Linked DNA regions of Homo sapiens: regions 1, 2 and 4 are each linked to region 3. The links come from fine-mapping of genetic effects on gene expression. A gene starts in region 3. Each other region holds a variant in brackets. All regions are shown on one strand. Distances are from middle to middle.

What was found. PIP is the estimated chance that this variant, and not a neighbour inherited with it, causes the effect. A credible set is the group of variants that fine-mapping cannot tell apart.
Region 1: its variant is the best candidate, but not a certain one, in a credible set for the expression of SLC6A12 in whole blood (INTERVAL, PIP 0.65).
Region 2: its variant is the best candidate, but not a certain one, in a credible set for the expression of SLC6A12 in whole blood (INTERVAL, PIP 0.63).
Region 4: its variant is the best candidate, but not a certain one, in a credible set for the expression of SLC6A12 in ileum (GTEx, PIP 0.56).

What each region holds. Positions count from the first base shown.
Region 1 is chr12:151,389-159,487 of GRCh38, forward strand. IQSEC3 (IQ motif and Sec7 domain ArfGEF 3) reads left to right here. Exons shown (of 14, transcript NM_001170738.2): 6 at 5,637-5,759; 7 at 6,140-6,306. Among named protein-coding and RNA genes, the nearest start is that of IQSEC3-AS3, 6.3 kb to the left of the region's middle. RefSeq lists an enhancer at 1,648-2,562. The variant G/T (reference allele first, on the strand shown) is at 3,242.
Region 2 is chr12:179,885-187,983 of GRCh38, forward strand. IQSEC3-AS1 (IQSEC3 antisense RNA 1) reads right to left here and starts at 2,524. Exons shown (of 3, transcript NR_183431.1): 1 at 2,184-2,524. It also overlaps a transcript of SLC6A12 not described here. RefSeq lists an enhancer at 2,103-2,604 and a silencer at 5,369-5,559. The variant A/G (reference allele first, on the strand shown) is at 4,576.
Region 3 is chr12:211,144-219,226 of GRCh38, forward strand. It overlaps SLC6A12 (solute carrier family 6 member 12), which reads right to left and starts at 3,014. Exons shown (of 16, transcript NM_001122848.3): 1 at 2,779-3,014; 2 at 883-967. RefSeq lists enhancers at 579-1,351, 1,363-1,412, 2,124-2,895.
Region 4 is chr12:123,217-131,315 of GRCh38, forward strand. IQSEC3 (IQ motif and Sec7 domain ArfGEF 3) reads left to right here. Exons shown (of 14, transcript NM_001170738.2): 3 at 2,417-2,696. Among named protein-coding and RNA genes, the nearest start is that of IQSEC3-AS2, 16 kb to the left of the region's middle. The variant T/C (reference allele first, on the strand shown) is at 5,022.

The DNA.
Region 1 (8,099 bases), 60 kb before region 3:
TTCCCTGCACCTCGAGTCCCATCTGTTCTTCCTCTAAGATGCAGCTGGATCATTCATTCAGTTTGTTTCCACTGCTCCTGCCTTAGCCCAAGCCCCATTATCTGTAGCTTGGACCTCTGCAGTAGCATCCTAACTGGGCCCCTGCTTCTGTCTTCTTCCCTGCCCCTCTGCCATTCATTTTCTCTCCAACAGCCAGGGAAATCTTCTTAGAACAAACAGGACCCTGTCGCTCCTCTGATCATACCCTCTATTGTGTCCCAGTGCATTCAGGATAAACTCCCAAATCCTTCTCATGACCCACAAAGCTGACAGACTGAGCCCTGGCTGCTGCCCCACAGTCACCATTCTCCCTGTTACTGTCTGCACTGCAACCTTGCGGACCCTGCCTAGGTCCTTGAAGCTCCTCCCTGCCGTGAGCCTTTGCATATGCTTCCTCCCTTAGCCCACCTGACAGCTCTCCCCTCTCTCCTTCCTTTGGCCACCTCCTACTCATCTTTCAGGCCTCAGCTCAAATGCCATGTCCCCAAAGAGTCCTTTCCAGACATACAATATAAAATATATCTCCTTTGTCCTCTCCTGGAACCGTCGTTTCCCTACATAGAACTCATCATGACTATAGGTAAAGAATTATTTTTGACTCTGTGTTCAATGCCTGTCTCTCCCACCAAGACAGAGACTGTGTTGCTGGCCACTTACACCAGGTCCCGAGCACAGCCTTGCACACGGGGCCACTCAGTGCTCGTTGCTGAAAGAGTCAACCAGCCACTGCCACAGGGCACAAAAAGCACCAGAAAGGGGAAGGCAGGAGGTCAGCGATATGGACCCTGCTGTGGGCTCCAGGTGCCCAGGCCAGCTCTGAACCTGCAGGGTGACCACAGAGCCCCCGTGCTGACTGCCCACGCATGCACCAAGAGGCTCTCCTGTGTAACTGTGTCCACGGGCTTCTCCTTGGCCTCTCACAGGTCCCCACCAAGCCATCTGGGTAAGATCACAGCCCCTAGGAAGACATGCATTAGTGCCAGCCACTGAGCAGCAGAGAGCCAGGGAGAGGTGAGGGAGAGGAGGGCACAGGGGACCACCTGCCCCAGGAGATGTCAGCAAGGAATGAGATGTGTGCAGCACGCCTGTAGGGCTGGCTGTCTAGTGTACTTCAGTCTCATATGTAATAAAAACATAATGGTACAATGGTTCATATTGCACAAGCTTGAGAAGATGAGGTCATTGCACACATAGTGAAGCACTTAGAGCCATACTCAGTACAGAGAGCTCAGAGGGAACTCCCCCGACTTGAGTAAGGGACCTCCCTGCCACCCCACACACACACAGGAGTGAAGAGAAGAGAGCCCAGTGGGGCAGGGAGAGGCCTCACAAGATTAGGAAGCTGAAAGCCTGCTCTCCCTAGCTGTGGGAGCATGGGGCCAGCCCTACGTGGCATTAGTTTTGTCTTCTGTAAAATGGGGAGATGATACACCAGAAAAGACCACCCGGGAATGTGTGGTGCTCTTTACCTTAAAGATGACCAATGAGGAGAGATGACTCCAGGCCACCCTGGGTGGAGGCTGCAGCATGGATTTGGTAAACTGCCCACACTCAGCTCCCCAAGAGGATTCCAGGGCAGCAAAGAAGGCTGGAAAGTGGGAATTAGGAGTGCTGGTAGACACTGCAAAATAAGAGAAGCAGCAGGACAGAGAGTGAGAGAAGGGGAGGGAGCAAAAGAGGGCACGGTGCAAGCAGAAGCTTATGCTCAGGGAGTGAACAGAGGAGGCTCATGCTGTAGAGGGCCGAGGCTTATAGGTGCTTCCAGGGGGACACGGACCCTGGAATGAGCAGGGCTTATGGTAGACAGCACAGTCCCACCCCCAGCCACCTTCCCCAGGATGACACAGGCCCCATCAGGAACGCAAACAGTGATCAGTGATTCCCCCTAGAGGAGGGTGGGGATGAAGCCACCAGCCAGCCAGGAGTGCTGCTGCGGGTCGTCTGCCCCCTGCCGTTGGGAGCGTCTGCAGTGCTTCAGAGATGGCCCGTGCCTCCGGGTGCCAGTCCTGAGAGGTCACCTGGTCCAACCCCCAGCTCTCCAGTGAGGAAGTGCCTTCCTCAGGCAGGAGGGTAGAGTGTCCCACCACTCAGCACAGCTTCCTCCCTTCCAGCTAGGGATTTCACAGCCAGAAAATGTCATTTTTTCCCCCAGGGTCTGAGAAACCCAGAATAGCACCTGTTCATGAAACACAGATACCCTGTGGTGGCAAATGCAGTGAGGGGAGGAAGGCAGGACGGCAGGTGCATAGCCAGGGGAAGAACTACATCTGTTTATGCCTCCATCCACCCCTCCCTCACCACCCCCATGCAAAAGCAGCCCCGATAGCCAGGTGGGGACACATGCCCCTAAGGACGGCTGCCTGGTGGCCTGTGAGTTGCTGGACTCACTTTAAAAGCCGCAGTGAGGCCTACCCTTGCACTCAGCTCAGTCTTTGGTTTCACAATTTAGGAACAACCGGGAGATCTTGCAGAGAATGCTGATTCCCAGGACTTGCCCCCAAATATTCTAATTTGCTGGGTCTGGGGTGGGGTCCAGCGAGCTGCATTTTAACAAACCACCTTATGACTCCGCTGTGGGGTCCTGAGAGCACACACTGGAAGATGTTGGATGAGAGGCCCTTCCAGCTCCACAGCCCAAGTGTCCACCCCTGCAGCCCTCCCCGCTTCGAGGCCCACGAGGGGTGTATTCAACTCCCATTCTGTGGGCCGACTTTTCAACCTGGCTGCTTCCCCCATCCCGGTCCTTGGCTCTCAGGCTCTCAGCTCACTACCGGGGCTTTTAGCAGCAGACTTGAGTGAGTGAACGGCTGCTTGTCACCTGAGTGAAGGGCTGGAAACTAGGCCATCGTGCTTGGCTGGGCAGATGCCACCCTCACCAGCTGCTCCCGCTGCCTCTGCGGCAGCCTGCCCCCACAGTGCCCTGGGCCTCCCAGCACCCCCACCATTGCAGGGTGAGACCTGGTCCATAGCCCTGGGGCAGAAGGCACTCAGAGAGAGGCTCTGGGAGGAACGTGGATGTGGGAAGCCGGGTGCCAGGACCTCAGCGTTCAGAAACAGGGAAGGGGTGGGGTGCACGACAGATGGGGGCAAGTCCTGGGGAGCAGCAGGATGGCACTCAGAGGGACCAAGGGCCGTTCTGGGGCCCTGAGGACCCAGGCCTCTTTCTTGGCCTCATAAGAGTCAGCGCCCCTGGGCTGAGAGG[G/T]TGGCATCTGGCCGCTCCATGCCGCCCCCACCACAGTCCGCGGTGCACTTCACATCTTCATCTCTACCAGACTTCTTCTGTCTCTTCCTCTTCCCCTCCTGTCCCTTCCTCTCCTCGTGCCTCTCTGTCTTTCCGCCTTCCTCCCTGTCTCTGTTTTTTGCTTGTTCTTTATCTCAGTCTCCGGTCTTGCTCCCTTTTTGCGATCTCTCTCCTGCCTTTTCCTCCTTGCCTGTCCCTCCCTTTCTCTCCTTGCTCTCTGTCGAATTAGACTTTCCTTGTCCTTCGCTGCCCCGCCCCATCTCTCTGGCCCACACGCTCTGACCCCCTTGCTGCGTGACCATGCTGGTTCACCTCCTCCAGGCTCTCTCTGTACTCATCGGACCACAGCCTCTTGGTCACCAGCCCTGGACAGTGTCACTGTGTGGCTCTGTTGTGCCCAGTTGCTGACTCCTGATGGGCTGGGCTACAGGAACACACGGATGTGGCCGCATAGGGCCTTTGGCACTCACGTAGGGCTGCAAAGGGTGCAGGGTGGAGGTGAGGAGGGCCACCGGGAAATCAGAGCAGCCTCTCGCCTGGCTGGCTCTGGAGGCCCCTGTTCCCCAGCCGTCAGCTCAACCTCAAATGCCCTGATCCTGGTGCTGCCGATTCTCATGCTTGGGCAAGATGCTGGCCTCCACCCCAGCCCCACCCTCACCTGCCCACTGTCCCGGCCAGCAAGCCTGAGAGGAGTGGGCTTTGACCAAGCCAAGGACAACTCATAGCCTGAAGATGGCCATGGGCCCTGCCTACGGGAGAGAGGCGAAAAGGAAAGAGGAGGAGAGACTCCCAGCTCCCTCTCGGCGCCCCCTCCCTTTCTAAGAGTCTTCGGTGATGCACTTTTCTCCTTGTTCTCCCCAGAAACCTGTGGGAGGCGGAGTCCATGGACCACCAGGCCCTGACCACCTCCACTGTGGCGTCTCCCCTTGTTTTCTCCTAAAAACTGACGGCAGAGTTGGGGGTCTCCAAGTCTTCTAGGCAGTGGGCACGAATGGAAGCTGAGGTCATGGAGGAAGTGGGTCCACCTCAGAGCTCATGTCACCATCACAGGGCCACTCAGCAGGCGTTTTCTGTGCTCTCGATGTGGTGGGCAGGCAGGCCAGGGGACCATGGGAGCAGAGTGGGACTGCTTGCCGGCAGTGGGCAGTGTCAGGGGCAGTGCAGGGGCTGTGCCATAGCCAGTGGGAGGAGACTAGGGTGAGTGGGTGTAGAGTGGGCAAACGTCAGCTCCAAGAGCCCAATCTAACGCGCTTGGTCTGCGTCTCCCAAAGGGAAAGCAATGCCCAGGGGACATTGGGTCCCCTGCTTTTCCAGGCCTGGACTCCTGCCTTGCTGCACATGGCCCTGGGGACAGGGCACCCCAAAGGAGGGTGAGGCAGGGTGAGGGGACTGGGAGGGTTCGGCCTCAGACCCTGCAGTGCAGAGTCCCCTGGATCGGGCTAGACCAGAGGAAGGCGCCTGCTTAGCTGGGGGGAACTGGCATGTGACCCCACACCCCCACCCACACACACTGAAGCTCGGGATGTTCACAGGCAAACCCCCCAGGGTTGGAGGCAGCATTTCAGAGGTAGCAAGGCCCTTGGGGAGCAGGGACTCCAGCCTCCTCCCTTTTCAGAAGGTCACACAGAGGCCCCAGGAGTGAGTGGGCAAGCCAGAGTCACACCAAGTTCGCAGGAGGGCCCAGACCAGAATCTGACCCTGCGTGTCACGCTGTCCCCTCACGTTAGGCACATTTGTCATTTACTCTTAGGCTGTGCCTCCCATCACAGCCTCCCCTGAGGGCTGGGGCAGCTGGGGGGAGCTGGGGCAGCTGTGGGGAGCTGGGGCAGCTGGGGGGAGCTGGGCTGCAGAAAGCCCCAGGGGCTTGAGGGGCTCTGCTCCTAACTGTTCAGCCTACAGCAGAAGGGATCCAACGGAGGACTCAGCCCCCTCAAGACCTAAATGAGAAAGTGAAATTTAAACCTGGGAGAAACACAGGCTCCTAGCGGGTCTCTGAAAGAACAGAAGAATCAATATGTTTACTGTATTATTTATGCTGAAAGCTTTGCTTGGGGTACTCTGAGGTTAAGAAGGAAGGAACTGGGATTTGGAGTTGGAAGATCCGAGTTCAGCCTCCCTCCACCCCTGTGTCCTGGGCCACCAAAGCCTCTCCTGGCCTCAGGGTTTGGGTTCCGAAAGGGCTACTGTGGCAGGTGGGAGGAGATGGTCCTCTTGGGGCATTAAAGGGCGACCCCCGGGGGTGAGTAGCCTGAGGGGCCCTGCACCTGTCCTGGCTGGGAACAGAGGCCAGCGAGAATGGGTGTTGGAGGGTGCTTAGGGTGCCACCTGACCTCACACCCTCCCTGCCTGCCCTCAGCTGCGTGGTGGACGAGATGGACTTCTCCAGCATGGAGCTGGACGAGGCCCTGCGCAAGTTCCAGGCACACATCCGTGTGCAGGGGGAGGCTCAGAAGGTGGAGCGGCTCATTGAGGCCTTCAGGTAAGGCCGCTTCCCAGCTCCACTCCCCAACAGACCCCAGCGTGGGGAAGCCGGGCCGCTGTGAGCCTGGGAGACAGGAGATGCTATCAGGAGGGTTGGACATTGGGCCAGAAACACCCCTTCTGGTGTGGGCAGGAGGATGGCTGGGGAGAAACAAGGGAAGGGAAGAAAAGGGACCGACCCCTCGAGCTCCCCAGGCTGGAAATGTGGGGCATTTGGGGGTGTGGGGAAAAAGACCAGAGTATGGGACAGACACTGGTCTCCCTGGACCTAAAGCCTTCGGAGAGCTGGGATACCCCCTGGACACCCCCTTCCTTTGTTGGGCCCGGGGGAGGGTGGGCGGGGGCTCAGCGTCCGCTCTGCATCTGACCCCCCCACAGCCAGCGCTACTGCATGTGCAACCCCGAAGTGGTTCAGCAGTTCCACAACCCCGACACCATCTTCATCCTCGCCTTCGCCATCATCCTCCTCAACACCGACATGTACAGCCCCAACATCAAGCCTGACCGGAAGATGATGCTGGAGGACTTCATCCGAAACCTTCGAGGTGAGGAGGTGGGCACTGGGGCAGGAGGGGCAAGGCCACGGCTCAGGCCCCATTCTGTGCACCGTGCATTCTGTGAGTCTGAGCCCCTATCACAGATGGTCACCTGCTGTCTGGGCCTGGTCACCCATAGCAAGCTGGGAACATTCCTTGTGAGCCAGGCGGCTGGGGAGTTTCCGGCATGCAGCCTGCCACCGCCACCGCTCTACCAAACAGCAAGCGCCCTTGGGCAGTGCCTCTTGCCCTCCGTGGAACATGGTTGGCCTCTAGGCCCCTGACACCAGAGCTGGCGGCTCAAGTGGTGCCAGCCCTTCCCCTCCACAACTTACAAGGAAGGAGCCAGGAGCAGGGCCCTGGGTCCATTTAAGTCAGCCTTGCAGATAACTGTATGGCACCAGCTGGCAAGTCCTTCTCTCATCGATGCAGCGCACTGCCTGGCAGGGAGCAAACCAGGACTGGCAGAGTGTGATGTGTGCGCAATTGTTTTTTTTTTTTTACCCGTTAAAAGAATCAAAGTTATACATCCACATAATTTAATAAAGTCAAATAATCCTACAAGGCTTATCATAGAAAAAAATTAGTCGCTGCCCCTCTCACCACTCACCTTCTCCAGAGGCAACCACTTTTGACTTTTTTAGCTATTTGCGTTTCTTCTGTATCGATAAACCGCAGGCTTCTGCTTCGCTTTTTTCTATCTCTTTTTTTAACTGGCATAAAGTCCAGACTGTGAGTGTGTAAGCCTGAAGTTTGATGAATGTGTACGGTCACGTGCACTGTGTCATCACACCTGGATCCTGATCTGGATCATTTTCACCTGCCCAGAATGTTCTCTCCTGTCCCGTCCCAGTCAATGCCTTCGCCCAAGAGTAACAACTATTCTGCCTTTTATCACCATTTGACGAGTCCTGCCAGTCCTTGAACTTCATCTAAATAGAGCTATACAGTATTTATACTTTGGTATCTGGTCTCTTTTATACACTGCTCCTTGTTAATTATTATTTCTGTTGCCCAGGCTGGAGTGCAGTGGTGCAGTCTCAGCTCACTGCAACCTCCACCTCCCAGGTTCAAGTAATTCTTATGGCTCAGCCTCCCAAGTAGCCGGGATTACAGGTGTGCACCACCACACCCAGCTAATTTTTATATTTTTAGAACAGATGAGGTTTCACCATGTTGAACAGACTGGTTTTGAACTCCCAACCTCAGGTGATCCGCCTGCCTCAGCCTCCCAAAGTGCTGGGATTACAGGCATGAGCCACCACGCCTGGCCCTTGTTAATTATTTTTATTTTAAGCATGATCTATTAATTCCCCATTATAGAATGTAAGGATTTAGCCCTCTTTCATCCACCTTCCCTGACCCATCCCACTCACGTCAGTGCTCATGTTATTAGGGCTCTGCACACACACTCCAAAGCTGAGTCTGCAAGTGCAGAATGATTGCAACTCCCTTCATCTATACTTTCCTTGGAGTTAATGCTTCTCTTTCCATTTGCTTAACTCTCTGAGGACCTCCCCTGATTCAGCCCCCACTTCCCACCCTACGTATCAAGCTCCTCTCCATATGTCCAGACCTGGGAGGTGGTGCGGGAGAGTCATCTTCCGGGAGCCTCTGGTCCTGCTCCAGTCTGGACAGTGGCTGGGCCAGGGCACAGCCTGCATCCTGGGCCCTCCTTCCCTTGCTCTCATGACAGATTCCTGGTTCCTGCATGTCAGAGCTTCCTCATTTTTAGTTTACTTTCAGAGAAAAGGCCATTTTTGAGAACTTGCATTTCTGAATGTATCTTTTTCTGTCTTTGC
Region 2 (8,099 bases), 31 kb before region 3:
TGATAGAGCCCGTCTGGTGGTCCAGGCCCCTCTGTGCCTATCTGCCGTAGGGATGGAGAGCTACAGTCCGTGCATCTCCCTCCATAATGACCCTTTGTAGATGGGAGAATGTCAGACTCATCAGTCATAGACTTAGAATGCTCCCAGTAAGGGGTCCCAGGATGTACTGGTTTCTGGCTGAGAGCAGTGACCCAGAGCTAGTGCTGGAAATCAGGGTGAACTGAACCGTAAGTTTGAGACCACCTGCTGAGCACTGTTTCAGGTGCTGGGGGCTATGCAGTGAAGGGGACAGGGAAAGTTCACACTGGGGGGTGTCATCAACAAGAAATGGAGCAGCTGCCTTCACACAGAGGATGGTGACCCCGCTGGGGTGATGGGGAGAGCCTGTTTTAGGGTGAACATTCAAGGAAGGCCTCTCCAAGGAGGAGAATTCAACAAGGTCAAGGTCTGGTCTGAGGGCAGGTGAACAGTTCGGAGACCATCACTTCAAGTCAAATGACCACATATTTATGAGGCAGAAACCAAGACAGTTTGTCAAAAAACTGTTTCCTGATATATGTGTTTACTTACATGAAAAAATCTTATGAATTAAGTGTAAACATGAATTCAAAACATCTTTACTGAGGAAAGCAAAATTGGTCTTCTAGCAAATCCAGGGCAGACGGTCACCAGTCACAGGCCAGGAGAGGAAGTGCTTGAGAGTGAGCAGTCAGGCGCTCTGGACAGGCAAGGATGGGGCCGGGGGTGGGGCAGAGCTTAGGCCACGTGGGCAGCCACCACCACAGGAAGACCAGGCCACCGAAGTAGACCGCAGAAAGCACAAACCAGCAACAGTGAAGTCAGGCTACCCTGAGCCGAGGCAGCTGCTGCCCAGAGCAAGCACGTGCTTGTGTGACCCTGCATAGGGATGGGGAGCAGCCCACTCCAGGTCAAGGCAGCCTGCTGTCCACCTCCTCCTCTGTCACCTCAAACCAAGAGGGCTCAGGTTTGCCATTTTCAAATTTTTCCTGTATTTATGTTTCAAAGAAGGGGCCTTGGTCTGTCGCCCAGGCTGGAGTGCACTGGTACGATCACAGCTTACTGCAGCCTGCAACTCCTGGGCTGAAAGGACCCTGCCGCCTCAGCCTCCCAAGTAGCCCAGACTACAGGTGCATGTCGCCACGCCCTGCTGATTTTTAAATTACTATTATTATTTTTGTAGAGATGAGGGTCTCTCTCCAGCCTGGCCAACATGGTGAAACCCCGTCTCTACTAAAAATGCAAAAATTAGCCAGGCATGGTGGCGTGAGCCCATAATCACAGCTACTTGGGAGGCTGAGGCATGAGAATCGCTTGAACTTGGGGGGCGGAGGTTGCAGTGACCCGGAATCATGCCACTGCACTGCAGCCTGGGCGACAGAGCGAGACTCTGTCTCAAAATAAATAAATAAATAAAATAAAAAGACAGGCTGTCTCTCTATATTGCCCAGGTTAGTCTTGAATTCCTGGGTTCAAGGGATCCTGTCTCCTCAGCCTCCCCAGTAAACTGAGACTGCAGGTGTGCACCACTATGCCTGAATAATTTTTGTTTGTCTTTGTAGAGACGGAGTCTCACTACGTTGCCCAGGCTGGTCTCAAACTCCTGGCCTCAAGGGATCCACCCACCTCGGCCTAGGCTTGCCATTTTTAAATAATGGAATGGACTCCATGGCCTATTGCACAGCAGTCCCAAGGAGTCCAGGGGCTAACAGCCTTTCACGTCTCAGCGTGAACCCCACAGAACGGAAGTGAGATTGATTTCTCCTTCAGGGGGCTGGCACTACATGGCTGCGGCCCTCGGCATGCCCCCTCCCATCCCAGCTCTGACAGATGTGGCCAATTGATCACTGCTTTCTGGGAGTCACCATCAATCACATGTGCTGACTCCAGGATGAAAGAACTTGCCAACCGCCCCGTGGTGTCCTCATGGAGACACCTGGAAGGAAGGCATTTTGACGGGAGGTAGCTTAGAGCAGGGGGCAGCAGGCGGGAGGTGTGGCCCTCCTAGTGCCACTGCTCTCAGGTCACTTGCGGACAGCAGCTCTGGGGGTGCTGGCTTTGGCTCCTTAGCTCTGCCGCTCAGGGACTCAGGGCTGCTTCCTGCCAGGACTCCTCACTACTCAGCAACCGGTCGACTACCCTGTGCACCAGGTCCCCTCACTCACCTTCCTCGGGGTGAGCCACATGGCCCCCGGTGTCACAGATGAAGGTCTGAAGACGCCCAGGCAAGAAGGACGCTCCGTCCAGGGCGGAGCCTTGGGAGCAAAGGCAGACCCCGTGGAGGGCAAGGGAGGTGGTCCTTCCAGGAGAACGTGAGGCCCAGCCAGCGCCCAGCGGCCTGGAGCCGCAGGCTGAGTTCTGATCTGCTCCCCTTCCCGTCCCAGGACGGCAGCCAGGCCCCAAGATAGACCAAGCCCAGGTCAGAGTCAGGGAGGTTAAATGAGGGCGCAGGAATGGGGGGTGCAGAGGGACAGGTCCAGAAGTGGTTCTGCCAGAATTCCCTTCTGGATGGGCTGGAGGAGAGGGAGCTGGAGCTCAGCGGGTGGGCGGAGTGCTCTCCTCCCCTGCGCCCTCCCTCCCGTGCCCCTGCAGGGCTGCACGGGTTCCCTCCCTAGGGAACCAGGCTGCCTAACCCACCAGCCGGCCCCTAGCACCTCAGCGCTTCCTGCTCCCATGACCCTAAGGACTAAGTGACCTCAAGCCTGGCTCTGGGAAAACTGTGGGAACCGGCTGCTGGGAAGACGACCTGGCTGTTACTCCCACGTTTCCAACTGCCTAGACAGACCTGCCCTGCCCTCCTTTCCTCAAGAAACCCTAATCCCCTTTCCTTCTGAGACATCTAGGGTAGGAGTCAGCCTCCCTCCCTGCACCCTCAGAGGGAATGGAAGGCAGGGGAGTCATACAGCAGTGCCAGGCCTGCAGGCTGAGTCACAGGCCAGTCATCCTTCTATGGCTAAGGGGACTACTTCACTTAAGAGGTTAAAAAAGAAGAACAGAATAAGCCCAAAGGAAAGAAACAATAAAGACAAAAGCAGAAGTAATAAAATAGAAAATATATATACAATAGAAAAGATTAACACAACCAAAAGTTAGTTCTAAGAAATGACTAATAAAGTTGACAAACCTCTGATAAGACTGATCACGAAGAAGAGAGACGGCACAAATGAATAACCTGAGGACCAACAGGGAGAACGTAACTATGAATGCTGCAGAGATTTTCAAAATAAAATACTTCAAATAAACTATAAACCTATGGCAATAATTTTGAAACCCTCCACAAAATGAACACTGTGCTAGAAAAATATCTTACCAAATCTTGCTCAAGAACAAACAGAAAATTTGGGATGTATAACCATTAAATTAAAGTGGAATAGGTAATTACAAGTCTTAGGGCCAGGAATCCCAGCACTTCGGGAGACCAAGGCAGGAGGATCACTTGAAGCCAGGAGTTCAAGACCAGCCTGGGCAACATAGTGAGACCCCCATCTATACACAGATCTTAAAAATAAGCTAGGCATGGTGGTATGCAACTGTAATCCCAGCTATTCGAAGGCTGAGGTAGGCAGATCACTTGGGCCCAGGAGGTTGAGGCTGCAGTGAACCGTGACTGCACCACTGAACTCCAACCTGGGCAACAGAGGGAGACCCTATTTCAAAAGAAAAAAAAAAGAAAGAAAAAGAGGGCCAGGTATGGTGGCTGACGCCTGTAATCCCAGCACTTTGGGAGCCCAAGGTGGGCAGATCACTTGAGTTCAGGGGTTCGAGACCAGCCTGAGCAACGTCGTGAAATCTCGTCTCTACCAAAAATACAAAAAATTAATGTCACTCCAGCCTGGGTGACAGAGTGAGACTCTGTCTCAAAAAAAATAAAAAAGAAGGAAAGTCTATTCACCATCGCCCAGCCCCCACCCCCAAGAAAAATCACACACACAACACCCGGCCAGATGATTTTACAAAATTCTACTACACTTCAAGGAACAGATAATTCCAATATCATATTAACTCTTTCAGAAAAGAGAAACAGAACATCTCCAAACTCCTTTTCATGAGCCTGGTGTAATCTCAAAAACAAAAACTAAAGCAGACAAGCACGGTATGAGAAAAAGAAGACTACCAACCAATCTTGTTTATGGGCATAAATTCAGAAATTCTAAACACAATATTAGCAAACTGAACCTAGTACTGAATAACAAAAAAAAATATGCCATAACCAAGTAGGGTTTGCCCCAAGAATGAACAGATGATTGAATATTAGAAAAATATAATAATTTGTTACATTAACAAATTAAAGGAGAAAAACAATATAATTATCTCAATAGATGCAGAAAAAGCAATCCATAAAATTCAACCCTTACTGTTGATTTGAAAAAAACCTATAGAACTTGGAATGGAAGAAAACTTCATAGCCCAGTAAATGATATCTATCAAAAATCATCAGCTGGCCAGGCATGGTGGCTCACACCTGTAATCCCAGCACTTTGGGAGGCCGAGGTGGGTGGATCACTTGAGATCAGGAGTTCGAGACCAGTCTGGCCAACATGGCAAAACCTCATCTCT[A/G]CTAAAAACACAAAAATTCGGTGGTTCATGCCTGTAATCCCAGCACTTTGGGAGGCCGAGGCGGGCGGATCACGAGGTCAGGAGATCGAGACCATCCTGGCTAACACGGTGAAACCCCATCTCTACTAAAAATACAAAAAATTAGCCGGGCGTGGTGGCGGGCGCCTGTAGTCCCAGCTACTCGGGAGGCTGAGGCAGGAGAATGGCGTGAACCCGGGAGGCGGAGCTTGCAATGAGCTGAGATGGCGCCACTGCACTCTAGCCTGGGCGACAGAGCAAGACTCCGTCTCAAAAATAAATAAATAAAAAAATAAAAATACAAAAATTAGCCAAGCATGGTGGCTTATGCCTGTAATCCAGCTACTGGGGAGGATGAGGCAGGAGAATCACTTGAACCCAGGAGGCAGAGGTTGTAGTGAGCTGAGATCAAGCCACTGCGCTCCAGCCTGGGGGACAGAATGAAACTGTCTCAAAAAAAAAAAAAAATCATCAGCCGTCATACTTCCTAATGAAATGTTAGGGTTCCTGTCAAAACCAGGAAGGAAGCAAGGATGCCAGCTGCCACCACTTCTAGTTACCAAGTGAAGGAAGATAAGAGAAAGAATCATGATCGGAGACATAAAACTGTCATTATTTCCAGACAGTCTGAGTGTCTATGTAAAACACCCTAAAGAACCAAGAGGAAAACAACAACTTTAATTAACCCAGAGGAAAAGGCTGAGGCTGGACAGTGAGCCCAGGTCTCCGGACAGCTGGCCGGGTAAGGCCGCTCCCCCGGCCCCACCCGCTGTCATGGCTACCCTCTGTCCTGCTCCCCGGAACCTCCTCTCCATGACAAACCCAAATTCCAAATGCACTTGTTCAGGACCCACTCTGGCTACCTTTGCTTGCTCCCTGTGCCCGTGTCTTAGTGAGATGGGGACTGAGTCCTGCTTGGGGAAGGGACTTGCCCACTTCGAGTCCCTCATGCTGGGGTGCAGTGTCAGAGTTCTGGCCTCGGGGCCAGGGCCTTTTGGATGTGACAGCCACCCTCTGTGTGTTAGTGAGATGTGCTTGGGCAGAAAAAGCCTCAGAATGTGACTGCACCAGAAGTTCCGGCTAGACTCTTGTTATAGCCACAGGTTATGCACTGACCCTGTGGATGGACACGAGCCTGCAAGGACTCAGCCTTGGCAGGGAGCAAGCTCCCCTCTCTGTCTGTGGCATCATCTGGCAACTTGCACTCGCCTCCCGTTACTTCCCAGTCACGTGCCAGCAGGTTCCTCAGACCTGACAGGCCATCTGCCCCTGCTGTGGCCAGACTGGAAGCAGAGAGCGCTGGAGTGCGGGTCGCCAGGGCCCAGGGCACTGACCCACCTCAACCCTGTGCCACCTGCCAGGCTTGGCTCTCATCTCACCCCATCCTGTCTGGCAAACACATCCTCCCATGGCCGCTGCATCAATGGGTGGTTAACAAGCTTCTCATCCCTGTTAGATCCAATCAGCCCTTGTTACTTCACTGAGCAGCAGAACCTGCAAGGAAGCTGGGCATGCGAGCACGGAGGTGGCAGGGACAGACACAGCCAGTCTTCACCTCCTCACAGCAAGGACAGGGTGAGCCCAGGGTCAGGGGAGGGCTCTGGAGGGGTCAGAGGAGGTGAGGCTGTGGCAGAGAGGCAGGAGGCTCAGGCAGAAGGGCACGAGGGGGCTGAGGGACGCCTCTGAAGAGGGGCCACGCCTGACTCTCAAAGAGGGTGACTCTCGCGCTCTGGGAAGTGGCCACGACAGCACCCACAGGCCACAGTGCACGCTAAAGCTCAGCTGTCCAGGAGCACACTTGACCCAACAGAGAGCCCACATGAGAGGAGCCGAGGCCTTCCACCGGCAGCCACAGCAGCTGTCAGCCAGGTGAAGGAACTGCAAGCAATTGGATCCAAGGATAGGTATTATCTACTGCTGTGTAAAAAATCACCCCAAAGCTTACGGCTTAAAACAACCATATGCATTTCTCACCTCTCACTGGGGTCAGGCATTTGGGGCCCACTTGGCTGGGCATTTCTGGCTCAGTGCCTCTGTAAGGCTGTAGTCCCTGTGTCAGCCAGGGCTGCTGCCACTAGAAGCCTTGGCCAGCTGGGAGGATACATTTCCACGCAGTGTATTCACCTTGCAGCAAGCTGCTGCTGTTGACCATTAGTGGGAGGCCTGGATTCCACGTGGGCCTCTCTATTGGGCCAACTGTCCCCCCAGACAATTAAGCTTTGGTGTACTCTGCCACGTGGGCGCTGCTGATGTTAACACATCTATTGAGATGTAGCTCTGAAATTAGAGGTATCCACTACCCTTCTTCGGGAGAATGTCCAGGTGGGAGAGAGACTTGACCCAGGATTCATGGATGAATAGCATCATAGGGTGTGAGGTCCACACCGGAGCAGGCTGGAGCCTGTGGTAACCCTGCTACCACCACCCCTTCTGAGGCACCAGGACCCCCAACCACTGCCCTCTGCTGTCCCTTGCGTCGCACCCAAGGGCTCCTGTTCCCTCCCCTGCCCAAAGTTCTCACTTTCTCCGCTAGGGCACAGATTATGAATTCAAACGCAAAAGCGAATATGTGAGAAAACCAGGTGTGACAGAAGTGGGAAGACTGTGGCAAACTCCAGCATGCCTCAGGGCTTCTGCTGCAAAAATCAATTTTTTCATGCCACACTGGCCAAATTGTAGCTGCCAGATTTGGCCTCTGTTCACCAGTCTGCAACTCAAACACCAAAGGAAACGAGATGAAAGTGTGCCCAGAGTAAGTGGGTTCTTGGTCTCACTGACTTCAAGCATGAAGCCGCAGACCCTCACAGTGAGGGTTACAGTTCTTAAAGGCGGCGTGTCCGGAGTTTGTTCCTTCTAACGTTCAGATGTGTTCGGAGTTTTTTCCTTCTGGTAGGTTCGTGGTCTCACCAGCTCCGGAGTGAAACTGCGGACCTTCGCGATGAGTGCTACAACTCTGAAGGCGGCGCGTCTGGAGTTTTTTTTTCCTCCCGATGGTTCAGTGGTCTCGCTGGTTTCAGAAGTAAACCTGCAGATTTTCCCAATGAGTGTTACACCTCATAAAGGCAGAGTAGACCCAAACAGTGAGCAGCAGCAAGATTTACTGCAAAAGAGCAAAAAAAAAAAAAAAAAAAAAAAAAAAAAAAAAAAAAAAAAACAAACCACACACACAGCACCCACTGCACACAACGCGACCCCAGCGGGTTACCACTAGGGCCTCCGGCAGCCTGCTTTTATTCTCTTACCTGGCCCCACCCACATCCTGCTGATTGGTCCATTTTACAGAGAGCCGATTGGTCCATTTTACAGAGCGCTGATTGGTCCGTTTTGACAGGGTTTTGATTGGTGTGTTTACAACGCCTGAGCTAGACACAAAGGTTCTCCAAGTCCCCACCAGAGAAGCTAGATACAGAGTGTGGATTGGTGCATTCACAAACCCTGAGCTAGACACAGGGTGCTGATTGGTGTGTTTACAAACCTTGAGCTAGATACAGAGTGCCGATTGGTGT
Region 3 (8,083 bases):
GTATTGAGGGAATCAAAGCGACCAGGTCTACCAAGTGCCCCACGCTCCTCCAAGGCTCTAGAGAAACAGGGATTCTTTTTATTAAGGAAGAGTCTGTGTTTATTTACTGGTCCTTTTAACCCAGGCAACAGCCCAAGCCCAAGTCAGTTAGAAAGGCGTGGGCAGGAGCCATTTGAGGTAATGGAAATTTTTGAAGGTGACTTGGAGGGTGCAGGTTATCCCAGGAATGGGAAAGCATGTCAGAGTGAAATTCTGGTATTGGGACCTACTCAGAGCCTTCCACTGTAAGCTCAGCCCAGGAGGGAGGATGAGGATAGCCACCCAGTGGGAATCAGAGGCCTTGAGTCTCTGTTATGAGGGAGAAGGCAGGGGAAAAGAGGGAGGAAAGAGAGCCTCTGGGTTCAGAGTATGTGATCAGACCCATGGGGGCCTTGAGCACTGGAGCCTGGGGATGAAAAAATGGGGAGTTGGGCCCCAGGGGAGAAGTTGGTAACATCTGAACCCAAATGTGGATGTTGCTACAGAATTAGGAATGAGGCACCCTGAGAAATGACCCTGGAATCATCACCAAATAAATTAACAAACTAGTGAGCGAGCTTGAAAACACGCATGAAAATGCACCAGATAGGAAACCCAAGTTCTAATCCAGATCTAGCTGTTAATGATAATAACAACAGGTTGACATCTGAGTCAGCAGTATGTTAAAGACAGGCACTCTTTCTACGTATTATTGAAGTGCATCCTCCTAAGAATCTCTGAAGTTAGGTGTCACTATTAGCTCCACTTTATGTGTGAGGAAGTGAAGCTCCAAGAGATTAAGGAACAGTGCCTGGCACCTGCAGCGCCTGGGGGACACTGTTCTCAATGCTAGAATACACTTACCAAGACAATGAGTCGTGGAGCTGGGTCTCTAACTTGCTGTGTGACCTCAGGCAAATCACACCCCCTCTCTGAACTCTAAGTTTCCCTGGAAGAGAGAAAGACCACTGCTCAAAGGGGTTTTCGGAGGGTGAGGGGATAAAAACAAGACTCAATAAAGAGACGGAGAACTGACCGCCTCTACTCGCGGGCCATAGCGTTGCTAATCCCAGGGCGAGCCCCAAGCACAAGGGCCCTTAGGGCGGTGGTCAGAAATGAGCCTTACTGTTTCCAGACCACAGGCAGCTGTGGCAGGACCAAGGTGGTCTCAAGGGCTGGGAGAGTGGAGGCTTGCTGGGGGAAGGAGTAAATGAAGGGAAAGCCGGAGGGGCGCAGGGGCAGGGAAGCGAATCACAGAATCCAGTTTGGGCCCAGGATTTGGGTTTCATCAGAAATAGGGGAAGTGCAAAAAGAGAACATGAGCTGGTGAACCGACACTGACGCAACATGATTTTTTAAAAATAAAAATGAAAATAAAAAAGTAATCGGGAGGAGCGTAACTTGTGGTTCAGAATGAAAATCCAGAACGGCAGAATGAAAGCAAGAGCAAGTGAAAAGGACAGCTGGCCCCGAGCCGTGGTAACTCAAGAGGGAACACGCTTAAACTGCAGCAAGAGGGATTTAAGTTAGACTCAGGGAAGAAATGGCCCAGAGGATGTTAGACACCAAAACAAGCTGTACTGAGTTCTCCTTTCTGGGCTACTTTTAAAAGGCAAAGGACTACACACCCCACCCCCGCTGTGCCCTTCCACCTCCAGCTTCGGCTGGCCGCCTCTCCAGCCCCTCGAGTCTCCTCCAAGGCCGCCCACCTGCTTTGCTAAGCCGGGACAGGGGGGTGAGGGGTGGGGGATGGGCCTCATCATACTTCAGTGCCCTCCAGAAGCAAACACACCAATTTCCACACCGGGCTTGGTGCTGCCCAGAGAGCAAATCTTCAAGAGACTAGAAAGTCCAAAGTTAAGTCTGTTTTCAGGAGCTGGGCATGTCGCCAGAGGCCCAGCTGGGGCTAGCAGAGGTGCAGACGAGACCAGAAATGCTGCTGCCCATGTGCTGCTGGGATCCCAGCTCTGTCCCCTTTGCTCCCCAGTCCAGCATAGGAATAGCTCAGACCCTGCACACGGGGGGATGGGACACCCAGCCCCTGCTTCAGTCCACACCCACATACCAACACCCATTCCCATACACACACTGGTGCCATTTCCCGTCACGTCCCTTCGCACACACATACCTGTGTGCATGGCACCAAAACCTGGCTCTCTCTGTAGTCCTTCACACCCCGTGAGTGCCGGTCTCAGCTGGTGGCTGCCTGCAACTCCCCTGAGTGCCCCCCTCGGGTACAAGCACACCCATAGCATCCACCGCCCAAAGCCAAGACAGCTTCCTCCTGGGAGGCGCCTGGCACCCAGCTCGTCACGCTCAGCCGGCAGGCAGCGGGCAGGAACCCCTCACCTGTGATCATTTATTGCAGTTCCTGGGCCCTCGGGAATGCCCCGAGGTTTCTCCTGTCCACTTCTCCTTCCACCTTGCTGGGCACCACCTGCTTCCCCTCCCCTCGTCAGATGACCACCCCTGCTTTCACCCACTGCCGTGACCAGCTGCCCATCGCTGGACTTTCCTGCTCCACAGGCTAATCACTGAGCTGCTCCCACGCTGGATGGGGCGGAGCTAGGGGGCACCCCTTGTCCTGAGAGTCGTGGGCATCAGACTTGCCCTTTGGCCTGAGGTTATTGCAGGTCCTGCCCCCCGCTGCAGACACGCAGTTCCACAGAGTCTCGCTTCCCAGGGCTCTATCCCTCCAGCCCCTCTGAGCAGCAGTTGGAGACTGCAAAGACAGAGCCAGCCCCTCCACTTCCCGCTCACCTCAGTCCCCAGCACCGGCTCCTGTGGTCAGCTTGGCTGTGGGCATCAGGTCTCCAGGAGAGTCCCAAGGCAGCTGCTTATGGGAAAGCCAAGAGAGCCGGGACCTGAAAGGGAAACTGCCCTCCACGTTCACGCCTTACCCTGTTCCTCCCAGCGCAGAATCCCATGTGACTTGTCCAGGGACTCCCAGACAGAAAGAAGCCGTGTGTGTATGTGTTGGGGCGGGGGCTGTGTGTGTTGGGGAGTGAAAGGACAGAGAAATACCAGGAGCAGCAGGAGGGACTGAGGCCAAAAGTTTGTGAACCGAGATTACAACATCCAACCTCAGGAAGTCAAGTCCTCTGTCCCCAGCGCTCCCACCCCCATCCCACTCCCACTGTGAACCCACTGTCTCCAGACCGGTGCCCTCCCCGTGGGCACAGTCCCATGATGGCCCCTCCAGAGCTGGGCTGAGCTGCTGCTCCCTTGGGCAGGGGAAGGGGCTCAGAGACTCACACCCTGACCTCATCTCCCCTCCTCCTCCTCCTTGCCCTTCCCCCTTCCCCCTTTTCCCCTATCCCCCTCCAGAACCATCTCCTTCCCAGGGATGAGGAGACGGGTATGTGCAGCACAGGGGACAGCCCTCTCTTACCAGAGACTCCAGGCTATAAACTGAGAACCTTGGGAGGGGAGGTGACCTCACTGACGAGGGCAAGGGAGGAGGGTGAATCACACGCTGGAGTTTTCCACCAAGTACCTGCCCTCTGTGGCTTCTAGGCAAGGCCCTGGACCTTCACAACCCTTCTCCTTGGGATTTTCCTAGAGAAAGCACCCAGAGCGTACCTCAAGAAGCAATGTAGAGAGGACCCAGGATTGGGACCAGACAGACCTGAGTTTCTTCTCCTCCTCTATCATGTATCAGTCACGACAGCTAGGCAAGGGTCAGCCTTGGTTTCCCAGTCTGTCAAAGGTAGGTAACAACACAATATCTACTTTGCGGGGTTGCTGTGAGGGTGCAGGGATATCATAGGTGCTTAAGGGGAGGTGTGGGTGTTTGTTGTGTGTCCTCTGGAAGCAGAGGCTGGGATGGTGGGGTGTCTGGTCCCAGGCACCTCTGGTCACTGCATAGCACCAGGCACCTAGCTAGAATTTGTCTGGAGTGGCCTGCCAGCTATCAATGGGGAAGGGTATTTTTTGAATACATGTGCCCTATGCCGTGTGCCCAGTGAGCTCCTCCAGAACAGCGTCCTGGTCACTGTCCCTGAGCACGCCCACCTGGTGTGGGGTACAGCACTGTCCCACCGCCCTTCATTCAGAATAGCTGGTGCCTCCTTCAAGACAAAGGAGGTGCTTCTTCAGCTCTAGGTGGTATGAAGGGAGAGGAAGTTGCAGGGAGAAAGGGAAATTTCCTTTTACATGTGCTTCCTCTGTGTATTTTAGAACTTCCCAGCAGGGGTGGGGTGTGAAGTGAGACTCTCAGTCTGTAGTTTTCCATCAAGCACCCCCACGATATGTCTCTCGGGCCCCTCTCAGCCTCTCCTGTGGGGTTCCACATGAAGAGGAAGGCAGAGCAGGTCTCAGCTCTCAGACCCATTGCCTCTATGAAAGCAGAAGCCGGGCTGGGGGTCAGCTGTGGCACAGTAGGACATGGCCCAGCCAGAATCCATACTTGAGCTACCCCGGTGCTCAGGTGTGGCCTGTCCCTGCATGTCAGGTCCACCATGGATTGACCACAGAGTTATTGCAGAGGGGACATCAAAGTCCATGTGATCACCTAGCTACAGCTACTCCAGAACAAAACACCAGCCTCTCCATAAAAAGGAGAAAGAGGGGAGAGGATCAGACAAGCCAAGATGGTGAATTTCCTTGTTGGTTCCCTCAAAAATTATATTTAGCACATACAGTGTGACATGCTTTCTGTGAGGATGAACAGCAACAGCCCAGCAGTCCTGTCACCTCTCCTTCACCTTGTCAGAGAACAGCTGCCTGGTTGACCTGGCCCAGGGGGTACAGTTTGACTTTCCCCCAAAAGAGCTACCTGGTCCCTCCCTGTTTTTATCTGACTGCCTCTGGCCTTAGTCCCACCATCTTAATGTTGAGCCCTTCCTCACTCAAGTTTTCCTAGCCTCCAAGACCCACTTGGTATTCAGACCAGTTAGTAAACTTCTGGAGGCCAGAGACTCTCTAATGTTGAGCCCTTCCTCACTCAAGTTCTCCTAGCCTCCAAGACCCACTTGGTATTCAGACCAGTTAGTAAACTTCTGGAGGCCAGAGACTCTCTAATGTTGAGCCCTTCCTCACTCAAGTTCTCCTAGCCTCCAAGACCCACTTGGTATTCAGACTGGTTAGTAAACTTCTGGAGGCCAGAGACTCTCTAATGTTGAGCCCTTCCTCACTCAAGTTCTCCTAGCCTCCAAGACCCACTTGGTGTTCAGACCGGTTAGTAAACCCCTGGAGGCCAGAGACTCTCTAATGTTGAGCCCTTCCTCACTCAAGTTCTCCTAGCCTCCAAGACCCACTTGGTATTCAGACCAGTTAGTAAACTTCTGGAGGCCAGAGACTCTCTAATGTTGAGCCCTTCCTCACTCAAGTTCTCCTAGCCTCCAAGACCCACTTGGTGTTCAGACTGGTTAGTAAACCCCTGGAGGCCAGAGACTCTCTAATGTTGAGCCCTTCCTCACTCAAGTTCTCCTAGCCTCCAAGACCCACTTGGTATTCAGACTGGTTAGTAAACTCCTGGAGGCCAGAGACTCTCATCTTTGCAAAAGGTAGGCATCCTGGAAAGCCTAGCTGAGACTGGGCTGTTTCCACACTGAGGAGTGTGCAGGGTGAAGACGACAGGTAGCTGAATGAATCTATCACCTTTGCTGCAGTAGGAACCACTGGCCACCACAGAATGTTCTCACCACCCTCATCTTCTAATCTCATCCATACTTTCAGAGGGCCTGGAATAGGACTTATTTCCTGAGCATCTAACTCGGACGAGGAGTTTTACATGTTACTTCATTTCATCCCCTTAAGAACTTTGAAATGTAAAAATTATTAGCCCCATTTTACAGACGGGAAACTGGGGTGAATAAATAGAAGCTAAGTGATTTGTCCTAAGGCCACACACAAGTAAGTGATGGTGCTGGGATTTGAACCTGGGCCTCTTGGCTCCAAAAATCTATGCTTGTTCCACTGAAGCATACTGTTCCCCTGACCATGAATATCTATATGTCAGGGGTCTCATTTCATAATTCTTTATTTCTGCCTCTAGCATTTAATACAATTCTGCCTCAGAATAGGCACTCAGTGTTCATTGGATGGAGGATGGATGGATGGATGGATGGATGGACAGATGGATGGATGGATGGATGGATGGATGGATGGATGGACAGACGGATGGATGGACAGATGGATGGACGGATGGATGGATGGATGGATGGATGGATGGATGGATGGATGGACAGACGGATGGATGGATGGACAGACGGATGGATGGATGGATGGATGGAGGATGGACGGATGGATGGATGAACGAGTGGATGAATGGAACTTGAAGGGGGAAAAATGATTACAGTTTTCCCTTTTCTGGGAGGACATTGTTTCCCCAGAATCAGAGGGCTCAGATGACTCAGGTCCTGCTTATCTTGGACAGTACTGCTCTGTGTTGTCACTTGGTGAAGAGTGTGGAGTAGCACCCTCAGGCCACAGGACCAGGATTATTTTAGGACTACGTCTTCCTTGCCTTCTAGTGAAAATGCTTAGCTCGGCCGGACGCGGTGGCTCACGCCTGTAATCCCAGCACTTTGGGAGGCCGAGGCGGGCAGATCACAAGGTCAGGAGATCGAGACCATCCTGGCTAACACGGTGAAACCCCATCTCTACTAAAAAATAGAAAAAATCAGCTGGGCGTGTTGGTGGGCACCTGTAGTCCCAGCTACTCGGGAGGCTGAGGCAGGAGAATGGCGTGAACCCGGGAGGCGGAGCTTGCAGTGAGCTGAGATGGTGCCGCTGCACTCCAGCCCGGGCGACAGAGCGAGACTCCGTCTCAAAAAAAAAAAAAATGCTTAGCTCAATAAATGTGTAGCCTCCTTCCTGGAGCCCAGTGCAACCTAGTCTGAGACTGGGGACAGCAAGGATATCTCTAAACTCTTCCTGAACTTTTCTGTGATGCTGACAGTCCGATGTGGTGGGGCTGCAGCTATGGGAAATAGGATGGGTTTGACTGAATGTGTCCCCAGGGCAGCTGTCCCTATAGCATCTGCTGGACTCTAACAACACTGATGTAAGTAGCAGTATTCCTGTTTTATGGAAGAGAAAACTAAGGATCAGAGAGGTTAGCTTGCCTAAGGTCACACAGTTAGTAAGTCAAAGGGCCAGGATCCAAGCCAGGCCTGCAAGCCCCTCTACAGGAGAATGCTCAGCTGGCTGTGGCGTCTCTGAGTTTGTGCACATGTGCACATGTCTCTGAGGATAAGGAGGGGCTGGTGCCTGCATGCCTGTGTGTGGATCTGAGACCTGGGTGTTCATGTGGGCAAGGTCTGAGGCCCCGCGCAGCCTGGTGGGCTCAGTGCCTAACAAGCTGCTTTCCCGCAGCCCTGGGCATAGTCTGTAACTCTCCCGCCACCTCTGCTTCTGCTCTCCCTGTTCAACTTGCCCCCAGGCTCTCACTGCTTGCCTTTCCTCTCTAACAGGTGTGGCCTCCAGACAAGAGAGGGCTCCCTTCCTTTTGGGTCTTCTTCTCTGGGAACTCTAAGATATAGCGCCCACCCCTCCAGGCTAGGGAAGCAGGTCACTGACTCGGCTGCCCTACACCCCCCCATCCCCACCCCCACCCCCGTCGCTTCAGCCCCTCTGGCTAAGGCCGAGGTACTCCTTCCTTCCTTCCCTCAACCCTGACCCCGACCCAAGCCAGCAGCATTCTCATCTCTCTGCCTGCCAGTCCCACCTGCGCTGTTAGAGCCTCACCCCCTCAGCCACCTCCCTCCAGTTTGATGACCTCACACCACGTGTCACCAAGTGACGGAAAGGACCCTCACACCCATTACCTCCTTTGAGCCCTACGACAAGCCCTGCTTGGAGAAGGAGTGCGTGGCGTTTTCTGCAACTGCGAAGCAAAGAACCTGAATTCCAAGTGACTGCACAGACACGCAGCAAGTTCTGGAAGCACACCTCCGGGTTCTTACACCAATAGGTGACTCTCACACCGTGTTCCACCATCAGGAAGCTCCTCGATGCGACTCAGATCACATCTGGGTCCCACATTCCCGCTGAGGCCGGCAGTTCCGGCAACTTTGGTCATACGGATGGAGACAGGTATTATAACCTTAGAACCCAACCT
Region 4 (8,099 bases), 88 kb before region 3:
CAACATAGTGGGACCCTGTCTCTACAAAAAAAATTTAAAAATTTGCCCGGTATGGTGGTGCGTACCCACCTGTAGCCCGGTGTGGTGGTGCGTACCCACCTGGAGTCCCAGGTACTCAGTAGGCTGAGGTGGGAGGATTGCTTGATCCCAGGAGGTTGAGGCTGCAGTGAGCTGTGATTGAGCCACTGCACTCCAGCCTGGGTGAGTGAGACACTGGCTCAAAAATAAATAAATAATAATTTTAAAAAAGACATCTAGAGCTATATTGAGCCATGCAGCTTGATTGGTGGCCACAGAAGAAATGGTGGACATAGAAAAAGGCAGCAGCAATGAAGATTTTTCACGGCCAGGGCCAGCCAGCAAGCACTCCTTTATCTGCCAGAGGTGCAGGAGAGTGCTGGGAGGGCAGATGGAGATTGAGAGAAGGGAGATTCTCAACCCCACCCTTGGCTGGGAGGAAGCACCAGGAGGAACACCTCTCTGCACCCTAAGGTCCAGTGGAAGCCGCAGGAAGAGGTCCCTCCTCTGGTGTCATTTGGCCCATCTTTCATGGTGGCAAAGTCTTGGAAGACATAAGTCCTTAGGTTGCAGCTGTCCTGCACCAGGGCCACCCCACCACCCTGGGCCCCTGTTCCTCATTTATAAAAATGGGGAGGTTGGGAGGCTGCATTAGATGACCTTGAGGTCCCTTCCAGTCCTGATTTTCTGTCACTGTCCACTGTAGAGCCATCCCCGTGGCCCCTGGGTTCTCCTCAGTTCACCATCAACAAGTGTTGACTAAGCACTCAGCATTTGCCCAGCATGAAGGGGCTGGGGGACGTAATGAAATAACACATAGGCCCTGGCTTCTAGGAAGGGATAGCTGGGGAAATAAGAGTTTATTTACTGGGCCGGGCACAGTGGCTCACACCTGTAATCCTAGCGCTTTGGGAGGCTGAGGCGGGTGGATCACCTGAGGTCAGGAGTTCGAGACCAGCCTGGCTGACATGGTGAAACCCTGTCTCTGCTAAAAATACAAAAAAATTAGCTGGGCGTGGTGGTGCATGCCTGTAATCCCAGCCACTCGGGAAGCTGAGGCAGGAGAATCACTTGAATCCAGGAGGTGGAGGTTGCAGTGAGCCAAGATCTCACCATTGCACTCCAGCCTGGGCAACAAGAGTGAAACTCCATCTCAAAAAAAAAAAAAAAAGAAAAGAAAAAGAAAGTTTATTTACTGAGCACATACTCTGTGCTAAGCACCTGACCTCTGCTGCCTCCTTTCTTCCTCACTGTAACCTCCTAAGGTAGGAACTAGGACCTCCTAAGGTAGGAATTAGGACAAGGGAACCAAGACTCAGAGGAAAAGCCAGTTGCCCAAAGCCACACAGTCGTAGAGCTTGAATTTGAGGCCATGGTGTTAACCACGATGACTCTCCTCCTCTGGGAAATAGACAGTGACTCTCTAAGGACAGCTCCTAGTGTTCCAGGAGACACAGCAGTGAAAGCTGCAGTCGTCCAGGAAGGCCTCATGGAGGAGGTGGCTTAGCACTGGGCCTCAAGGGAGGGGCAGAACTTGGAGGCTAGTGGGGAAGGAAGCAATCTGAGGGAACCAACTCTACAAAGCAGGCTGGACCATGTCTGCTCCAGGCAGCAAGGTGTCTTCTTAGAGTAGGCAGGAGGGCTGCAGCCATGGCTCAGCCTGCTGTGGCTCCCGGGGAACAGAGGATGGGTCAGGGAGGAGCAGGTGTTTTCTAAACCCAGCAGGGCAGGAAGCCTCCTCTTCACAGCCGCAGCCCCCACACCTGGAGTCCACCCCCCTGGAAAGGCTTATGCCCAAGCCAGGCCAGGCACCCTGCCTCCTCCAGACTCATTTGGTCAGTCTAAAGATGAGCTGGCTTAGTGTAGATCAGCTTCCCCAGCCACCTGAGCCTGTGCCCAAGGAGCCGGGCCACCGATACTTACAATAGGTAACACATGTAGCAGTCACCATGACTCAGGCACAGCTTAAAGAGTTGTAAGTAACTTCAGCCGCCAGTATCCCTGTGAGGTAGGTACTGTTACTGTGCCCATTTTATAGATGGAGAAACAGAGGTGCAATGAGGCTGAGTGACCTGCTCAGGGTCACACAGCTCGTAAGAGGCAGAGCCCAGATGCACCGCTCTGCCATACTGCTTCTAAGCAGAGGCTCCTGAGCCCTGGCCATAGCTGCCCCTTCCCTCTGTCTGAGCTGCCTCCCCAGGTGCGGGTTCTTCTCCGTGCCCAGGGCTCATCCCTGCCATGGTAGCCCCTCCCTAGAGGAGACTGTGAAAGACACCCCCTCCAGTCCTTGCCACAGGAAAGGCAGGCCAGAGTGCCTAGCTTCTCTCCCCGACCCCCACATCCACACGCACCCTGTCGCCCTCTCCCCCAACCGAGCACCGTTGCCTTCTGTTCACAGTGATGGCTCCTGCACCCAGGCCGGTGGGGGCATGGAGGACTCCGTGGTGGCAGCGGCGGCGGTGGCAGCCGGCAGACCCAGTGCCCATGCCCCGAAGGCTCAAGCCCAGGAGCTGCAGGAGGAGGAGGAGCGGCCGGGGGCAGGGGCTGCCTCCCCAAGGGCTGGCCCCCAGCACAAGGCCTCCCCCGGCCGGCAGCAGCCTGCCCTGGCGACGGCGCTGTGCCCCCACGCCCCTGCCGCCTCCGATTACGAACTCTCCCTTGACCTAAAGAATAAACAGGTACCCAGGGCCTCCTAGGGGGGCGGGGAGGGTGGTGAAGGGGCCCTGCTTTGGGGGCTGTCGAGGGTACCAGGGATATCCCCGCTGGGTCCCCTCCGCTACAGGCACACCTCTTTTGCCACAGTTCTCCTGCATTGAGCGACCTAGTTTGCCCTTCCCTGGACCAGCCACAGGCCTCTGCCTTCTACCATGGCAGGGCTCATACCCTCGCAATGCCAGGCCCTTGGGCAGCACGTCCAGGGGCTCTGCTCCTCACACAGTGCTCAGCAAGCCTCCACCGCCCCACTGACCACTAGGCAAGGAGCCCACTGTTCTCTGGGGTGTCCCCACCTCCATCTGCTGCTTAGAGGCCATAGTCCAGCTTCCACGCCCACCAAGGGAGCCGGTGTTAGGCACCCACAGGCACAAACGAGGCACAAAGACAATGGTCTCCTCGAAGCAGACAGGATTCCCAAGATCAGTCCAGACTGGGGGAGTCCAAAGCTCCTCTATTGGAGAACAGATTCCATGGAGGGGCCTGGGCCTCCATTTTCCATTCAGGAAGAGAAAGTGGCCAATTGTGGGGCCCCCATTGAACCCCCAAAAAAGATAATGCCTCAGTTTGTCTTGGCAGACAAGAGTCTTGATGGAAGGTGTGTGTGTGTGTGTGTGTGTGTGTGTGCGCTTAGAGAAAGGTGTGATGGTGTGATACTGTTAAGGAAAGAGCTTTGAACTTGGAGATGTAGACATGGGATCCAGTCCTCGCTCTTCCTCCTATGAACTCAGTGACTTTGGGAGTTGCCAGTTAAACCCTCTGGGCATTCGTTTCCTCATCTGCAAAAAAATGAGAATTAACTTTGAATCACCTCCAAGGTCCCTTCTGCCCCAAAATGTGTAGGTTCTAGAGAACAATTCTTCAACCCAATAGGCAAGGTATCTTCAGAAAGGAAGCTAGTGGGAAGGCCACTAAGACTGAGTCAAGCCAAACTAACCTCCTTCCTCTCTTGGCATTGATGCCAAGCTCATATCCTGGCTCAGGCCAGCTGTAGGCAGCACATCAGTAAAGTGTTTGACCAAATCCCCCAAGATACCCTATGTGCACATGCCAGGAATGTGTGGATTACTAACAATATAGTAAGGAGGGTTGTTCTCAAACCGAATTATCCAAAAAATATTCATCAAAAAAAATCCCAGGGAGTTGAGTGGACATGCTGTCCAGGTCACTGATAAGGCACCAATTTGAGGCATACAAGTTACATTCACCTGGCTTTCTGATGACATAAAGCTGAAAGAGAACAGCTGATACCTTGGTGATAGCATCCCAGACTTTGTAAAAACCTCATCAGGGGCCAGGCGTGGTGGCTCATACCTGTAATCCCAGCACTTTGGGAGGCCAAGGCGGGTGGATCACGAGGCCAGGAGTTTGAGACCAGCCCGCCCAATATGGTGAAACCCTGTCTGTACTAAAAATACAAAAATTAGCCAGGCGTGGTGGCGCATGCCTGTAATCCCAGCTACTCAGGAGGCTGAGGCAGAATTCCTTGAATGCGGGAGGCGGAGGTTGCAGTGAGCCAAGATTGCACCACAGCACTCCAGCCTGGGCGACAGAGTGAGACTCTGTCTCAAAACAAAACAAAACAAAACAAAAAACACCTCATCAGGACAGAAGGATGGTTTTAATGAAAAAAAAAAAGTCGGATGAAATGTGGAAAAATCTAAAATTCTGCTCCCAGCTTCGAAAACCCCACAGCACTAGCATAAGACATTCAGGCCCTTCGCCCACTTTTTGAGAAGTGTCTGTTCATGTCCTTTGCCCACTTTTTGATGGGGTTGTTTGTTTTTTTCTTGTAAATTTGTTTGAGTTCATTGTAGATTCTGGATATTAGCCCTTTGTCAGATGAGTAGGTTGCGAAAATTTTCTCCCATTTTGTAGGTTGCCTGTTCACTCTGATGGTAGTTTCTTTTGCTGTGCAGGAGCTCTTTAGTTTAATTAGATCCCATTTGTCAACTTTGGCTTTTGTTGAACATGGCACACATCTATAGGAGACTGAACTCGACTCCTCTCTCTTCTGCCATGAGCTGTATGGCCTTGGGCAAGTTGCTTGACTTCTCTGGCCTCAGCTGCCTCCTATGTCTGGGACTTCACAGGCTCTTCCCTTGGCCTCAATCTCTGAAGTTTCCGCTCCCCTCCACACCCCTGCACTTGGCCTTCTCTTGCTTTAGTACTTGCTTTAGGTACCTCTTCCTCCTCTCAGGCAGTTTTCCCTGCCTCCCAAGCCTGCACTGGGTGTCCCTCTCAGTCATCCCACAGGGCCCGGGTGTCCCCGTCACAGCCCTTCAGCCCTG[T/C]GTCAGCATTTCCTGTTTGCTTGACCCCCTCCTTGAAGGCAGGTGCATGACTTGTTCCTCATTATATTCTCAGTGCTTAATGCAGTGCCTGGCGAAGAAGCTGCTGGAAGGATAAGAGACGGGAAATGATCACTTAGTGACATAAAGGGGGATGGGATGGGTATACAGCATGGCGCCAGGAACTGACTCTGCCTTAGGTCTCTTTGAGATCTAACACTTGATATTCCAACCCAGTGATTCCGCCAGCCACACTGAATCCCGTGTTCCATGGCCTGGGAGGGGTGTTGGACAATCTTAGCTCCCCAGCCCACCGACCCGCCAAGCCTCCTCTGTCAGCCAGTCCAGATCCCCAGGACGGTTTTCCTTGGCTGTTCTCCTTCCTTCGCCTCTGCTCTAGCCCCAAGCCCCACTGATGCTGCCTCTTAACAGTTCCCGAATCCCACCCTCTCTTGCCTTCCCCAGTGCCCCTGCCCCAGGAGGCCAGGCCATCCTTCCTCTTGCCTGCACGCCGGGAGACCTCCTGTGCTTCCCCTTCTTTGAGCTCTGTCCCTTCCAACCTCACCTCCACATTGCAGCTGAATCATCTTCCTAAAGTGCACCTCTGACCGCGCTGATCCTCGGGAAAGCCTCTGATGGCTCCTCACGGTGTGCAGGACAGAGGCCTCTCCAGGCTCCCTGCCACAGTCCCAGCCCCATGGGGGTTCCAGCCGTTCCTATTTGCTGTCCCGAATCTCAAGCCACCCTCACCTCTGGGCTTTTGTGTGGCTTTGTTTCCTCTCCTGGGGATTCTCCTCACCTGTCCCCGACCCCATCTGCTGCATCTGGAAGACTTCTGCTCATACTTCAGGTCGCAGCCGAGGCACGTGCTTTTACCCATTGCCTGTTGCCTCCTCTGTGCTGTCTGGGAGTGGGAGCTGTTCCGCTCAACAGCATGGACCATGTTGTTCTCAGGGCTGTGTGGAGTTGAGCAGGTGGTGCTCGGGACACCTCCAGGGTGCTGCATAGCCCACGTGAAGAGCCAGCGCTCCTGGAGCTGTGCCCTGGGAACTGTCCTGTCCTTGCCCATCTTTGCCGCCCTGCACCTTGCACAGTCTTGGGCACCTAGGAACTGCTCAGCAGGGAAGGAACATAGGAATGAAGGCACAAGTGAATGAGCAAACGAGGCCTACCCTCCAGCTTCCTGTTCTCCCTGCTGGCCCCTTCCCCAGCACCTGTCACAAGTCGCACAGCAAGACGGTCCTCCTGCCAGCTCTTCTCCCCTTCTCCCTCTGCCTTCGACCCTCTCACCCCACCCCAGCAGTCCTGGGGGATACAACCTAGGGCAGGCCAAGGAGTGAGCATGCAGGTCCCTTTGGGGAGCCCTTTAGGAATAGAGGGCCTAGGTGTCATTTTGAAATTCCTCCAAGCCCTCTAGGGAGTTTGTGTCCTGTTGCAGAGCGACTGGAGCCCTTCTTAGCCATCTGAATTGCAGAGCCCTCTGGGCTGCTCAGGCCAGAGGGCTGTGGAGTTGCAGTCAGTAGAATCTGGGCCCTGCTCCCCGAGCCGGGTCCTGGACAGAAGCCATGTTCTGCTGGAGAGCAGCCCCTCCCCACAGATCCCCATACCCCAAGCCTCAGGGTCCAGCCTCACTATGGGGCACCTCTTCAGGAAGATGTGGTGGCTATGTTTCTAAGTCACTTTCCCTCTTTGCATCTTGGTTTCCTCATGTGTGAACCAAAGGCTGTACCAGAGGGCCTCCTGGCCCCTTCCCACGCTGAAAGTGAGATTTCTACCATGGGCACAGAGAGCACCAGGGCACCAGCCTACAGAGGACAGTGGTGAGGACAGGGCACTCCATGGGTTGTCCCTCTCCCCGGTTCATTCAGTTCAGGGAACAGCACTGCACAGCTGCTCTGTCGCAGGCCCTGTGCTAGGCCTGGAGATGCTATGATGCAAAAGATACAGGCCTAGTCATCAGGGTGCCCACAGCCCAGTGGTGGGCAGACACGGGGCCAGCACCAGTGTTACTACCTGAGCACTAGCTCTGTGTCAGGCCCAGGCTAACGGTTGCCATGTGTTATCTCCCCGGGTCTGCACAACGTCCCCGTGAGATTGGCACCATTACCGTCCCATTTCTGGAATGGGAAGATTAAGGCTGAGTGATGGTGATGTTAAGTAACTTGCCCAAGGACACAGTCCTAGGAAGTAATGCAGCCAAGACATGGACTCCGCAGCCCATGGTTTCGACCCTGTACCTTCCACCATCTCTTGGCATTACAGTGAGGAACAGGCCCCATGGAAGTGGCACACAGGGTCTGTGGAGCATGAGGAGGGCAGGCAGCCCAACCTGGGATCAGAGCCAGCTCCTGGGGCAGCCCCACTGGAGGGTCTCATGACCTCACTACTAGCTGAGCCATAGCGTGTCCCCCATGCCTACCTGGCTGCCCACTCCCAGGCAGGCCTCAACGCCCTGCGTGTCAAGCACTTGCTGTATTCCAGACAGCAGGCTGGGAGGAGGGCACACAGAGCAGGCATGAGTCCCCTGCCTTGCAGGAGGCCACAGCCCTGCCCAGCACAGACCCAAGGCTCCTGTGGGCCTCTCTGAACACCCCCAAAGCACCAGCTTCCCCAGTCTCTCTGCTCCTCAGCCTCACACCCGGGCTCGCCAGGCCAAGTTCTGGAGGCTCACAACATGCTGTGCTTTCATGGTCTCAACTGGGAAGTCTTGGATGGGAACAAACCCTTGGAAGCCCCCCACACCTCCCCGCGATCCTCAGCACTGTGCCCCCCAGCTAGCGGCTCTTCCTCCCCACACCTGGCCCCCGCTCCTCAGCACTGTGCCCCCCAGCTAGCGGCTCTTCCTCCCCACCCTCTGGCTTGGCCGCCATCTTTCAGCGGCCTCTTCAGGCTCAGCTGCCACAGCAACCTGAAAGAAGGGGGCACGTTCTAATTAACACTGAGAGGCTCATTAGAGAGACGGAGGCCCCCGCGCCCCTGCCGCTGCTTCTTCTGGCAGAAGCTGAGAAATTGCTCTCTTGGCAGGGGGCGAGGCCATCATTCCTCCTGGTTCCTGGGGTTTAGAGGGAAGTGAGCAGAGCT